4 linked regions of the Homo sapiens genome follow. The protein of the gene in region 4 interacts with the protein of the main gene of each other region in a pairwise test. Each region holds a gene or a part of one and is shown on either strand. Other genes may lie near its edges.

What was found. The genes of interacting proteins can lie anywhere in the genome.
Region 1: the proteins of PKNOX2 (region 4) and CCDC116 interact in binary tests that used the Homo sapiens proteins (3 or more experiments, as listed by UniProt).
Region 2: the proteins of PKNOX2 (region 4) and PBX1 interact in binary tests that used the Homo sapiens proteins (3 or more experiments, as listed by UniProt).
Region 3: the proteins of PKNOX2 (region 4) and NUP58 interact in binary tests that used the Homo sapiens proteins (3 or more experiments, as listed by UniProt).

Annotation. Positions count from the first base shown.
Region 1 is NC_000022.11:21,631,588-21,635,559, forward strand, and holds the start of CCDC116 (coiled-coil domain-containing protein 116), read left to right. Parts: upstream 1-1,172; 5' UTR 1,173-1,240; intron 1,241-1,392; exon of another isoform or gene 1,393-1,396; coding exon of another isoform or gene 1,397-1,594; coding exon 1,595-1,666; intron 1,667-2,434; coding exon 2,435-2,983; intron 2,984-3,097; coding exon 3,098-3,679; coding exon of another isoform or gene 3,680-3,972.
Region 2 is NC_000001.11:164,562,184-164,565,683, reverse strand, and holds part of PBX1 (pre-B-cell leukemia transcription factor 1), read right to left. Parts: intron 2,447-3,500; coding exon 2,373-2,446; intron 1-2,372. UniProt on the Homo sapiens protein: Transcription factor which binds the DNA sequence 5'-TGATTGAT-3' as part of a heterodimer with HOX proteins such as HOXA1, HOXA5, HOXB7 and HOXB8. Binds to the DNA sequence 5'-TGATTGAC-3' in complex with a nuclear factor which is not a class I HOX protein.
Region 3 is NC_000013.11:25,311,625-25,315,124, forward strand, and holds part of NUP58 (nucleoporin p58/p45), read left to right. Parts: intron 1-1,258; coding exon 1,259-1,408; intron 1,409-1,989; coding exon 1,990-2,127; intron 2,128-3,500. UniProt on the Homo sapiens protein: Component of the nuclear pore complex, a complex required for the trafficking across the nuclear membrane.
Region 4 is NC_000011.10:125,409,251-125,412,750, reverse strand, and holds part of PKNOX2 (homeobox protein PKNOX2), read right to left. Parts: intron 2,556-3,500; coding exon 2,426-2,555; intron 1,973-2,425; coding exon 1,875-1,972; intron 1,006-1,874; coding exon 886-1,005; intron 1-885.

The DNA.
Region 1 (3,972 bases), on a different chromosome or scaffold from region 4:
TAAGGGTGACTTGCCTCTGTTCTGGCCCCAAAGAAGCACCATCTGATAGAAAAATAAGTAGCAACATGGTATGGTAGAGTCTGGAATGGGGTTTACTGTGAATTGCGTAGGGCGTGGCAGAATTCACAGTAAAAGGTTTTTGGAAGAAGTGACACCATGGTGGGGTATTACTGAGCAAAGGGGAAAAGGAGGGAGGGAGAGGAGGTAAGAATATACAAGGCTCCGCTGGGCGCGGTGGCTCAGGTCTGTAATCCCAGCACTTTGGGAGGCCAAGGCAGGCGGATCACAAGATCAGGGAATCGAGACCATCCTAGCTAACACGGTGAAACCCCATCTCTACTAAAACTACAAAAAAATTAGCCGGGCGTGGTGGCGGGCCCCTGTAATCCCAGCTGCTCGGGAGGCTGAGGCAGGAGAATGGCGTGAACACGGGAGGCGGAGCTTGCAGTCAGCCGAGATTGCGCCACTGCACTCCAGCCTGGGCGACTGAGCGAGACTCCCGTCTCCAAATAAATAAATTAATTAATTAAAGAATACACAAGGCTCCACTGGGTTACTGGGTGTGCTGTAGGGAGATTTTATTGAATCCCATACTCCCATATTGGAAGAACACTCAAGCCCATTTACAGTGTGGGACTAATGCTGAGAGGTTGAGTCACATTGGCAGGAAAGAGCAGAGCCAGGAACTGAAGCTAGGTCTGTGACTTAGAGCCGGCACTCTTTCCACTGCAGAGGGGAGAGGTCTCAAGGCAGAACCTGGGGCTGTGCACACCGCGGGAAGGGCAGAGGCCCCTGGAAACGAACAGGAGCAGGAGGCCCAGGGCTGCGCAGCAACCAAGGAGGACACGAGGAAGGTGCTTGTGCCACCGGTGGAAGACGTGGCTTTGGCTTTTAGGCTCCCCTCGGGGCAGGAGCAGATCAAAGAGCCTAGCCCCAGCTTCGGTGGTGGGTGGGGGGTCCTCCCGGCAGCGGGGAGCGTGGGCACCAGCATCCTCAGCCTGCGGCTCCCAGGCGAGTGTGGGAGGGCAGAGCCCAGAGAATTGGAGGTGGGGCCAATGTGGGCCCCGCCCCCAACCATTGTGTCGGAGAGGGAAGTGGACGAGCTCCTCGGTAAGAACCAATGAGGATGTGGTATGCAAATAAGCAAGTGGAGGCCGCCAGCCGACTTCCTCGCACTGTGCAGCTGCTCCAGTGAGGGCGCAGACTGTACTGGCCTGTGCGGAGCAAGGCGGTGTTTCTGGTGAGTCTGTTGATTCTGGGCTGGGGTGAAAGCCAGGTTGCCCAGGGTTTGGGAGGAGGGCGGGTCGAGCACACGCAGATCCAAAGATGATCGGAGACAGGATTGTCCTCAGCGATTCCACCCCGATGACTCTGGAAACTGCCTGCCTGCAGACGCATGGGGGCCATGGAGCAGAGGAAGGGCTGGATGCATGAAGGAGGCGGGGTGCGGGGAGCGAGGGACCCGCAGACTCCAGGGCCACAGATGCGTGGACCTATTGGAGACCCTCAGGTTGTCTCCCCACCCCACGCAGAGAGGAATGCGCAGCTGAAGAGAGAGGTGGGCAGCAGGCCCGGTCACCTGCCAGGTGACCACATGGCCAGGTGCCGCCACCACTCGGGTTACCTGGCCGATGACGAGGCCAGCCACTCCATGTGCAGTGCACGGGTAAGTGTGCCCAGCAGGGCGCCGACCCTTGAGGCCACAACATGTTCCCCACCAACCCTGGCACCCAAGACCACAACCCCCATTTCTCATTGTCTATTGACTTCTCTGGGCCTCTTAGTGAAGTCCTTATTGCCTTGACTTCTCCTATGTCCCCCACTGCTTGCCCCTGTCACACTCAATTTCATTCCTTGTTTCCTCCTGACTTCCAGCGACCCAGAAGGTGCTTGGGTGGACTGGGACCCTAGAGTGGGAGCATGGAGTTGACTAGGTGCCTATGGCTCAAGTTGGAGAAACAGGCCCGGGTAGCACAGGGCTCAAGACCTCAGGTGTTGTCTGCACTCAAGACCTCAGATGTTGTTTGCAGCCCTGCCATGGATACAGGGATGGCCTGCTGCATGGACAGATGAGGAGCTGGAGGGAGACTCCGAGAGATTCATGATTGCTCATCCTGCCACGTGTCAGGGCAGAAGCAGGCTTGCAGACTCCTTAGCCAGGACTTGTGTGTGTGAAATGTAGGTGTTAGGAAAGCTTCGGGGTGACCCTGAATAGACCTCCACTTTGCAGATGAGGACATTGGACCTCAAGAGGGGCCATCTTGCACACTGGCATCAGGCTGTAGGTGGCAGAGCCAGGGTCCAAACCCAGGGCTTCCAGACTCCAAAATGCAGCTCCTTCCACTACTCACTCCCACCCAGGTCCTAGTGTTACCCCAGGGAACCCTTCACCTGTAGGGCACCCCTGCCCCCTGTGACATACCTGTCTGCTCAGGTGCAGCTGCCCAAGAAGCCACTGGTCCCAGAAATGCGGCCAGCCTGCAAGCCGGGCCGTGTGCCACACCCACCATCCACATGTGGCAGCTCAGCACTCCAGGGCCAACGCCGAAACAAGAGGCACCCTCAGCCCTTTGGCCACTTTCTGGATTTCCTAACTGAGAGCCAGGTCCTGGACAGCCTGGAGACAGTGGTGGAGAAGGCGACTGAGCGCATGGCTGCCATGAAGACGGAGGCTGGGGTGCCGCTTGTGGAGGTGCAGGACCCAGTGGAGGTGCCAAGTGGTGGACGGCGGGCACATGCCCGGCCCAGCCTCAGCACCGTACACCGGCACCGTGTACGGCCGACCCTCTGCACTGGACACCCCAACAACTACCCATCCAGCTCCAGCTCCATGTCCAACTGCCATAGCAGCCTCATGGCCGGCTGTCTGGGCTCCCACAGCCGGGACAGTGACCTAGGTGCCCAAGGCTCATTGCCACCTGTGAGGGACAAACTCCTGCTGGAGAAGAACCTCAAGCGGCTGCTACAGCTGGAGAGGGAAGGGGTGAGAGCCAGGGCCATGGCTGGGTGGGGTGGACTCCCATGGAGAGCCCAGGGCTAGGGTCAGCCCTGGCTTGGCTGCTCCTGAACACTTCACAGAGTCACCCTCTTTCTGCAGAAAGGCCTCAGTCAGTCCTGCTCCCAGAGGGACTCCCTGCTGTGGGATTCGCTGGGTAGCCAGACCAGCTTTCAGTGGACACAGGAGCAGCCCTTGTCCTGGTTCTCAGGGCTGCTGGGCTCAAGCTCTGGCGTGCCTGAAGCATCAGAGCCGAGGCCTGGAGAACAGGAGCCAATCTTCCGCAAGCGAGAGTTCAATAAGGAGATCAAGTCATTACTGAGCCAGCTGGAGTCCCTCGACCTGCCTGGCTACTGTCCGCTCCGTGAGCCCCATCGCACGCTGAACTTCCTGGCTGACCACCGCCTCTTCCCTGCCCTGCAAAGCGTGGTCAGCCAGGCTGTGGATAAGCTCCGTGGCGCCCACTGCCGCGACGGCCGTCCTCTGTTCCCCACCAGCTTGGAGCCCACCTCAGATCTGCCGCCTCTGGGCTCTGAGCCAGCTAAACCCACCAATGGCGGGCAGCCCTATGCTTCCCCCCGCCCCACAGTCTCCAGCCCCAAGATGCTTCAGAGAAAACGCAAGGACAGAGGAGGCTCCCCCTCCATGTCTAGTGCCCAGGTGGCCACCAGATTCAAACTCAAGGTGACACCCACGGAGAAGCCCAATGTCCCCAGCCCCTCACTCCACTCCAGGGAGGAGGCACCTGACTCAGATCCCAAATTACAAAACCCACCTGTTTCCCTGAGCTCCAGCCAGAGGGCCCAGCCCTGGCAGGGCCTGCACCTCACCCTGCCCACGCCAGGGATTGTGGTGGAGGTGGCCTGCAGCCAGGGCCACCTCAGGGGCCCTGTCACACCTCCACTTTCCTCCCCCTACCCCCGCTCTTCCTGCTACCTTCTCCCTGAGCTCTCTCCAGTTGCCTCTTCATCTCCCGC
Region 2 (3,500 bases), on a different chromosome or scaffold from region 4:
AAAGATTGAAGGTTCCAGGGTCTTGAGTAGCCAAGTAATCGTGCTTTAGAATCAAAGGGTTCTTTTCAGCAGACCACAGTTGACTCCTACCTTTAACACAACACTCAACATTCCAGGAGAGGTTTTTGCCTTCCCTTCAATCCTTCCAACACACAAGTTGAAGACTAAGAGGGAGGTAAGCCTTTTTTTTCCCCTACTTTCACCCAGGGGTGCCCTCTTAATCCAAGACTTGTGTGTGTGTGTGTGTGTGTGTGTGTGTGTCCCTTAACACAGGGGGCAATGACTCTTATCACTTTCAATTACATTATTTGTAAATTGTTTTTTTAAATATGTTATTCTAGAGACAACACAAAAAACCTTAATTTAGATTTTTTTAAGTCTCTAAACATTAAATGTATTGACACAAAATTTAAAATACAAAACTTTTAGAATGTTACTTTGACCAATACGACTGACTACTTTACTTCCTATCATTATACTTGAGCCAACATGAACAAGGAGCGAACTCTTTAACCCTCACCTGAACCGGATCTCTATTCACACCCACCCACTTTAATCTACTGCCTCAGTAGGTTTTAATTAGGAAACTAGAATTAAGCACTTTGGCCACAATGTACATTTAAGTGCCCTGACAGGCTTCCTTTCAATAAAAATCTGATAAAGTATCTTCAAAAATAGACTCTCTTTAGTCCATATTATCACATATGCTTTTATATTTTGATTCTACATTTCATGAAACAAGATCAGCAGGAACTCATACTTGGTTAGAAACAAATCTCAACAAACCAAACACTCAAAGTAAATAAGCATCAGAGATCAAAGAAGAAAAAAGAGAGAAGATAAAAAAATATATATAAATATATATATACACACACACTTAAGTTTCCTACTCTGGGCTAATAGAAAAAAGAAACTAAAAAGTGTGACAAACTGGAAAAAACTCTTTTGATATTTGAATGCACAGTCCATAAATCTTTTAAAAGTTGTCTCACAGCTAAAATAATGCAATTAACAGGTTTGCAATAAGGTTAAGCTTTGGCAAGGCAACCTGGAAGACTTAGAGGTCTGAACATCACTTCTCAGGTGCTTTGTCTAGAATGTTATGCACAACACAAATAACATTCAACAAAGGAGCTGCGTACTAATTTTACACGCATTTCAAGACCCAAGTAATTACATATTCATTCAACAGTCACATCTTGAAACTATTTTTTTAAAAGAAAAACACAGAGAGCTCTCAAAAAGAAAGCCACCCTGTGTGCCCTCTCCCCCCGCCCATTTTTTATGTGTAACTATCAATGTATATCAACCAAGCATGCAATCATATTTATTGTCACTTTCATTCATGTCATGCCCTTGCTTATATGGTTTAGATATGAATTATTGACTGTTACACTCCTTGTTGTAAAAAATAAATAAATAAATAGGATGTCAGGTACTTTGCACTGCTCTAAAGCGAGCGGGTAAGTCAGAGCCCAGCAGAAGCTCCCGCTTTATATAACCACCCCTTGTCCCTCATCTTTATTCCCTGGTTTCAGATTGCCTTCTCAAATCTTTCTTCTTACAAGGGAGAGCTTTACCCACTTTGGAAAATTAAGGATTAAAATAAACAAGGGGATGTCGCTAAATGTCCTTCCCAGAGCATCTGTTGTTTAAGAACACCTCTGATTGATGACTGCTATTTTTTAATTGTTGCTTTAAAATTTAAATGCCCTCCTGGGATGTGTTATAAGTGTGTTAGTCCACGAAACGAGGTCTAGAAAGTAGAAAAACAACAGAGTGAATTATCTCATGGCGTTATACTCTCCTAAACCCAACGATTCTCCCTGCAATAAAATCACAGGCCACTCAAATACCGATAACCTAATGTTGTATAGCGCATTCCACAAAGGTATTTGACAACACTCTCTGTTGAGAACCTCTAGTCTGCTGCTTTGTGTAATTACAAGAAAAAAAGGAAAGGAAACTTTCAACAGTTTAGCACCCCCACACCCAACTCCAAAAAAATTAGGGTTTTAAAAATGGGCCAAAATATATTCCTTAAAAAAATGAACTTTTACTTTCATATTTTTGCCCCAAAGATACATCAGTCTATAAATTTCCTTTCAGAATCTATATTTTAGCCCCAATCTCAAAAAGGCTGGAAATAGAGTTCTGGAAAATTAACCAGTAGTGCTTGATAATAACTGTCAAAGAAACTTGATTCTTTTTTTTAAGGAAAGCAGGGCTAGGACTTCCTATTCGAATATGAGGTCAACCTTCATAGTACTTGTATTCTGAAATTTTAATATTTAAATAATAGATTTGTGACTGCTGGTTAAGTGATTTAATTGGCCAAAGAAAATGCTAAAATGTTGGAATCTCATTCCTACCTGTTTTTTCTTTGATTTCACACAACACATTAAACAAGGCAGGCTTCATTCTGTGGCAGTTTAAAGCATGTTTTCTGCAAGAAAGAAACAACATGATAGCTTAGGTGGACTCTCAAGATCAAACTGCCGATAATGCACAGGGTGAAAACATTTGAACATTTAGACAAAATTATATACCCAACCCTAACTCTGTGGCATGCTTCAGTTGTTTTCATGACTTAATATACAGAGTCCCGCCATAGAAAAAGAAATAATGTTAATTAGCAGGGAGAGGGTAGGGATTTAACTACAGAACAGAACTAACCTAAATTATGCCCATTTAGGGAAAGGGTTTTTTTTTTTTTTTAAGTAGTTTAATCAAAGAGTAATTCTTAAACCCACAATTCTTCCCAGGACAATGAACACAGCAAAGCCAAAGGTGTAGGTTAACAGTTTTGTAAAATCCATGCAACGACCACAGCCTAGGAACTGTCTGCCTCTCGGTCTGTGTGTTTTCAAATTTAATTCATCCATGTGTTCGAATTCATTCCGCAGATGCCCCTGTATTCTCATAAACACAAGATGCTTGAAAGGTCTTCTGAGTAGAACTGTCAATTTATAACATTTCAGTCCCCAAGTTAAAGAGTATGGAAATGCATTGCCAGGGGGCAAACATACCCATATGGGGAATAAATTCATTTCTCTGTGTTCACATTATGCTTCTGTGCACACACTGCTTATTTGCAGGTGTTGAAATTCAATTATTTACAATTAGGACCTTGCACCCATTGGGGGAAAAATAAATGCAATTTTGTCTTTTAGATTAGTGATTTACCTGGTGTGTGTGTGTGTGTGTGTGTGTGTGTGTGTGTGTGTGTGTATTCTGAATGCACTTGAGGAACAAAACAATACCTTTCCTTCTATTTTATTATGGAACCACTTAGCAGAATGATACTGTTTTGGAAACAAAATACTGATCATATCAGCTATTAGTTAAGTGAATTCTGTCTACTAACTAAAATTAATGTGTAAAGATAAATGGAAAGTTCTGGCACTCAAAACACATGCAATTCTTTTTTAATCCCTTTGAAAGTTAAAAAATAGACACATCCTCATGAAGAACAGAGATCAGAAACATGCCCTATGTAC
Region 3 (3,500 bases), on a different chromosome or scaffold from region 4:
TTGGCTTCCCAAAGTGCTGGGATTACAGACGTGAGCCACGGCACCTGTCTTTTTTTTTTTTTTTTTTTTTAAGGTAACCAAGATAATTTTAAGAATAGATTAGAGGTTAGAAGAGACTGATACCAGAGAAATAAATGCTGTTGTAGTAGTTCTTAAGAGAGATATGGCCTAAGCTAAGGTTTTTAAGGATGCTTGTAGTACAGGATATTTCTGAAGTAGGATCGACAGGATTTGTAACTAATGGAGTACAGGAGAAGGAAAGGATGTCAAGGATGACTGGTTTCTGGCTTAAGCAATTGAACTGAGCAAGGTTGGAGATATAGCAAAAAATGTTTGTGGTGAGATATGTAGGAGGCCAAAGGGACATCAAGATAGAACTAGACAATGAGGACTTAGGTAAATGTCAGTTTAGACTTAATCACCTGTAGGAGAAATGATGAAAGTGGGTGTGTCATTGGGGAAGTAAGGAGGTAGGAATGGAACTCTAGGAAGTGTCAGTTAAGACATGAACAGAGGAAAGAGAGCTACAGAAAAAAAGGACTGAAAAGGAATAGGGAGACAGCTGGGGGCTGACAGAGACACAAGGGCCAGAAGAAAGGAATAGAGAATGGTTATTGATAGAGTATTAGAGAGGAGGGACCATTTTTCTGCTGAGAGGGAAAGGAGGAGGATAAATGCTGCATTAGAGGTAAATCTAGGAGTAGAATAAAAATTGATATGTTACATCGATTGGATTTTCTTTTCTGTTTTTTTATTTTTTGAGACAGAGTCTCACTCTTGTCTCCCAGGCTGGAGTGCAGTGGCACGATTTCAGCTCACTGCAACCTCCCCCTCCCAGGTTCAAGTGACTCTCGTACCTCAGCCTCCCGAGTAGCTGGGGTTACAAGTGTGCACCACCACATTGAGCTAATTTTTGTATTTTAGCTAGAGGCAGGGTTTCACCGTGTTGGCCAGGCTGGTCTTGAACTCCTGACCTCAAGCAATCTGCCCATCTTGGCCTCCCAAAGTTTTGGGATCACAGGCGTGAGCCACTGTACCTGGCCATTCTTTTGTTTTTCTTAAAGAGCCATCTTTTTTGTGTTCACCATGGTTTAGTCTCAACTTTTACATATTTTCTCTCACAGATACACCCTTCTTCTATTGGCAAAAGGTAGTATCATGAACTTTTAAGGATCCTTATTGAAACCAGTATAATAGAACACTTACAGGTAAAGTAGGATTTTTGTTTGTTTGTTTATTCATTTATTTATTTAAATAGGAACGCCAGCCACTACATCTGCAGCTACAACAGGCTTCAGTTTAGGATTCAATAAACCTGCAGCATCTGCCACACCATTTGCTCTACCTATTACCTCTACCTCAGCTAGCGGTCTGACTCTTTCGTCTGCTCTGACATCAACTCCAGCAGGTGAGGCAGAATGAAAAACCGTTGCATTTAATGGTTAAATTTCAATTTTATCTGGTTAGAGAACATAGATAGTCACCTTACTACAGAAATTATTGATTTATAAAGAAGAAAATTCAGCTTTGAGCATTGAAGCAGGAGAGGCTGTCTTGATGTCCCTATTTAGAGAGCAAAGCAGGGGAGAGGGCTAGAGAGGTAAAATGTAAAGCTGTTAATATTGACTTTGTTTTGAAGGAGGCATTTAGTGACAGGGGAAGACAAAGACTTGGCATAAACCTTGCCTGGCTTATGATTCATTTAATATGAAGGTGAAGTTGGTGGCCTGGGTTGAAGACAATATTGCTATCTAGAATCAGTTACCTGGTACCATTCTAATACTCCTCAAAGCCCTTATTTCTGTCGCAGATTTTTGCTTTGAAGCTGCTATTTCTCTTTATTCTTAAGTATGTAATTTTTAGCAAGTAGTTCTTCCAAAGAGCCAATTTTATCATGGATGTCAGTTTTTAAAAACATCGTATTTGTATTTTTCTATGGTGCTGTTAAATAAGTTGCCTTTTGAAAGCTTACTATCTCTCTTTTTATAGCATCCACAGGATTTACTCTAAATAATTTGGGTGGGACAACAGCCACAACTACAACTGCATCAACAGGCCTCTCTTTAGGGGGAGCCTTAGCTGGTTTGGGAGGTTCACTTTTCCAGAGTACAAACACAGGAACATCAGGTAATTGATGGTATTTATTCTCCAGAATAGTAAATATTTATATTTAAATGTACTTATTTTTATTTTAGTACTTTGAGCAGGTCACTTTTTAATCTGCATATTTTCCTTTAAATATGAAAACTAAATTATAAAATGATGGTTTTCATACATAATTGGATGTATTAACCGTATTTTATTTATTTATTTATTTATTTTGAGATGGAGTCTTGCTCTGTCACCCAGGCTGGAGTGCAGTGGCGTGATCTTGGTTCACTGTAACCTCCACCTCCAGGGTTCAAGAGAGATTCTCCTGCCTCAGCCTCCTGAGTAGCTGGGATTACAGGTGTGTGCCAGCACACCTGGCTTATTTTTGTATTTTTAGTAGAGATGAGGGGGTTCACCATGTTGGCCAAGCTGGTCTCAAACTTCTGACCTCAAGTGATCCGGCTGCCTTGGCCTCCCAAAGTGCTGAGATTACAGGCGTAAGCCACCGCACCCAGCCTATTAGCCATATTTTAGAAATACATTTTCCTCTTTCTCAATATTGACTAACCAGATAAGGAAACAAAGAAGAGCCTGTTTAAGGAGTCAGTAAACTGATCTAGAGATAACATCTCTTCTAAAAAGAACAAAAATTGTATTAGCTCAGTAATGCATGGTCTTATAAAAGTATAGATTTATTAGGCTGGACACGGTGGCTCACACCTGTAATCCCAGCACTTTGGGAGGCCAAGGCAGGTGGGTCATCTGAGGTCAGGAGTTCGAGACCAGCCTGACCAACATGGTGAAACCGCATCTCTACTAAAAATACAAAATTAGCTGGGCATGGTGATGCATGCCTGTAATCCAAGCTGTTTGGGAGGCTGAGGCAGGACAATCACTTGAACCTGGGAGGCAGAGGTTGCAGTGAGCCGAGATCATGCCATTGCACTCCAGCCTGGGCAACAAGAGCGAAACTCCATCTCAAAAACAATAATAACAATAAAAAAGAAATACAGATTTATCAACACAAGATGCTTGAAATTTTGCGCTTGACTCACAAGTGTACGTTAATGACTTATGATTAACCGTAGTCTGGTCCTTTTTATTCCTTTTGTCAGTGAGGGAAGATGTAAATAAGCAAATGAATTCTAATACTTTTTTTTAAGTTTTGTGAAACGAACTTGGGAGTATGAAATTATATTCAATACATGTTATATTCAAATGTTATAAATTCACACTAGATTATCTTAAAAGTATGTAGTTCCAAAGTGTGTTTGTAAGACAAGATGTATTCACCTGAAAATACACCAACTGAAACTGCTTTTGTAGAGAGGGTTTAAAAGCCCTCTGTAACAAAACCCCTTTATAACAAGTGAAGATTGAGTGCCTACATACTGAATTGATATATGTTC
Region 4 (3,500 bases):
TCTTGTATCTGTGTCTGTCTGTCCTGACATGCCAGGGCAGGAGCTCGCAGACTAATGGAAGCCCGCCCGTGGTCACAGCATCTACCTCCCCACCCCAGAACACACACACACCAGCGCATACACACTCAGCACAGTCACTGGCCTTTATTTACTGCCACAGCCCTTGAAAGTGGTGTTGGGAGATTGCAATTTTGAAGTCTTTCCTGACATTCCACCAAAGGCTCGTCTTTTGCAACTAATGCTGCACACAAACACATAGCAACCTTCACACAGTATGCACTTCAGTAACACTCCACTGCAACCCGAGGTAGTGTGCCATTTTATAAAAGGAGCTGCTGCAGCTTATGAAAGAAATAGTGCTGTGTCCTGGAGCTGAGCTGTGACATGAGGAGCCAGGATTCCAGCCTTGGCGCCCATCTCCACCACACAGCGCTTGGCTCACCCAGTGGGGAGGACTCAGGAGTCCTGGCAGAGTCAACACATTCTTCCATGGGAGAGGGGCACGGTGAGCGTGGCTGCGGCAGGGGGAGGGCTCTGGACCAGAAACCACCCACTCCCCGCAGTGACCCTCTCTCTGTTCATGAAACAGTGTGACACACCTGCCCAGCACTTGACTCTTGAGCATGCACTTGTCCCCATTACCCCATGTGTTGCCACATTTTTTCCAGATAGCAACAGCAGCAGGTACTGGAGAAGGTCTCCAGCTTTAGGCCCCACCTGAGCCCCCCTGGCCTGGACTCCAGATGTCATTCCTATCAGAGAGCTCTCCCCGAGGCCGCGCCCTCTGTCTGTGGGTTTGGAGCCGACAGCAGAGTCTGGTACCCACACGGTGGGTTATTCATACCCCATGCCGGGACTCCACACCCCCAAGACACACACACTCACCATGAGATGCTGGAAGAGCCAAGAACGCATTATATTGGTGGCATGCTTGGGCAAGACTCCTCGTTTGTTCTTGGACTTCTTATCCTCATTGTCCAGGAGGGAGGTGAGGTCAAGGTTAACCTTCAGGGCACGTGGAGAGAAAATCAGCATCAGCAGCCTGTGAGGGCAGCGGCTGGGGACCTGTTGCCATAGCGACGGCAGGCTTGGCTGCCAGCCCCTTTCCCGGCTCATTCCTAGGGCCCTGGGGAGGTCACCTTTCCCTCTCAGCCCATGCCAGCCCCTCAGAGAGTGGAGGTGAGGCTTGGGTGATGGGAGAAGGGAAGAAGGACAAGGAGGAAGAGATGGGGAAGGGGGGGAGAGAGAGAGAGAGAGAGAGAGAGAGAGAGAGAGAGAGAGAGAGAGAAAGACAGAGGAAACAGGGCCATGCAGAGAGAACAGGAGAAGATATGAATTTGCCATAAGCTGTCAAGTAGTTATCAGCATTTCTGTGGTACTTTACAGTTTGCAAAGCACTTTCCTATCCATCGCTGTGGTTCATTCTCACAGCAGCCCTGTAGGTTGGCTAGGCTGTGTGCAGTTGCTATTAATCCCCCTTTTATCAATAAGAAGTCTGAGGCTCAGAGAGGTTAGGTGACTTATCAGAGATCCCAGAGTTAATGTCAGATCCCAGACTCTGACTTCCGATCTTTCTACTCTTCCTTTGTGTGTGCACTCTCTACCACTGAGGGACACAGCGGCTCAGTCTGCAGACAGGAATAGGAAGTGCAGGATCCTTTGATGTAACCCCAGGAGGGAGGCAGCAAAATCCCAGGAGTTGATAAAACCTTTCCAAGACCCAGCTTCTTATCTGTAAAGTAGGGGTAATGATACCTCTTAGAGGATGATGAGGATTCAATGAGTCACCCGTGTAAAGTGCCTGGCAGATAAGAAGCGATTACAGGTGCCCTAGCCCACACCATGCACATGTGCACACACCTACACACACTCACCTGTGTGTTCTGGATCTGGATGGCTCCCTGGGGGATTGCTTGGGTGACCACCTGACCCTGGGAGGTTACCATGGTAACCGGTTGGTATAAGGCTCCACCTGAGGAGACAACCAGTTTTGGGGTCCCCTGCCATGGGAGTGGGTAGGAGCGAGGGCAAGCAGGGTTCCCAGTTCATTTGGCACTCATGTGTAAAGACCCTCTACTTGGAGCCCTTGGGTAGCGAGCTATGGCTTTCTGCTTTATGGGTGGGTGGGGGATGGTGTCTAGAGCCTAGGACAGAGCCTCTGGTGGGAGGTGCTTCGGGGAAGGGACAACAGCCTTACTTGGTCCTCTCAGGGGCTCATGAGATTTTGACCCAAATTTGTTCTAAACCATCACAATTGGGTCTTGGCGCTAACCGTCTATAAACTTACAGAAAACTTTAGTCAAGAAACTGAGCTGGGAGCCCCTCCCTCGGTGGAGGACAACCCCCACCCCTGGAACCGCCTCGGGGCCACCCTTTCTCCTCCCAGGGAATTCCCACAATCACCCTTCCCAGTCTTTGCACCGACCTGACACAACTTGTGAGTTGACGGTTGTCATGGCGATGTTGCCCTGCTGGAGCGCTGAGGCTGGGACCACAATCCCCTGGGGGTTATTGGAGACTCCGGACATGGAATTGGGGGAATTCTGCAGGAGGTCCTGGCAGTGAGGGAGGCGTGGTTTGTGACAATGACACTGAGAGCTTAGACCCTACAGCCCCAGAGTCCTCTTCCGTCCTTTCCCCTTCCTGCCTGCCCCCCTCCCTCCTTCTAGCTCCTCCCCAGACCCAGGTCCAGAAGGCAACTCTCTTGGTTTCCTAGAAAGGGTGAATAAGAAGGCTCAATTAAAAAAAACAAAAACAAAAAGAGTCACCCATTTAACCATTCCATTGCCCTGAAAACCTAAGGCACAAATTATCTGATAACCCCCATGGTCTCCTCCTTGGCTGTACTTTGAAATCTCCAGTAATGATGCTTGGGTTCCAATCTCAGAGAGTCTCATTTAATTGTTCAGGAGTGTGTCCTGGGCTCTGGATTTTTTCTTGATCAGATCCATCATATTCAATGGGCTCCGGGTTATTAAAAGCTCCCCAGGTGATTCCACTGTCAGCCGGGTCTGAGAAAATGGCTTCACCTGGTCGGCACCTGCTCATCCTTCAGCGACGCTTGTCTCCTGATGCTTTCCCGTCCCCCGGCTGCTCTCCACACACCTCCATCACAGGCCTGTCACACTAGGCTGCACACACAGAGCAGCCTCCAGCTCTCACCTTTGTATCCTTAGCACCTAGCTCAGGATACTAAAATACATGTTAAATAAGCAAATGAAAGCCGCCCTAGCCTTCCCATAACCTGTCTTCTAAGGGTGTCTCATATGAGCCTCAGCCACCTTCGGCACATGGCATCGATCCTGTTCTCTTCCTCAGGCTGCCCACAGGATTCCACTGGAAACAGACTCTCCTCTCCCCACACTGCCGACCAGCACGGAACCTTTGCCGCTTTTCTTTGCGTTAGCCCAGGCAGGTAAGACATGTTTTCCTGGCCCTCTGCTCTCCTCACCATTCCTAGTTAACAGCTGGGTAAAGAAGTCCTTGGACTTGCTGTGGAG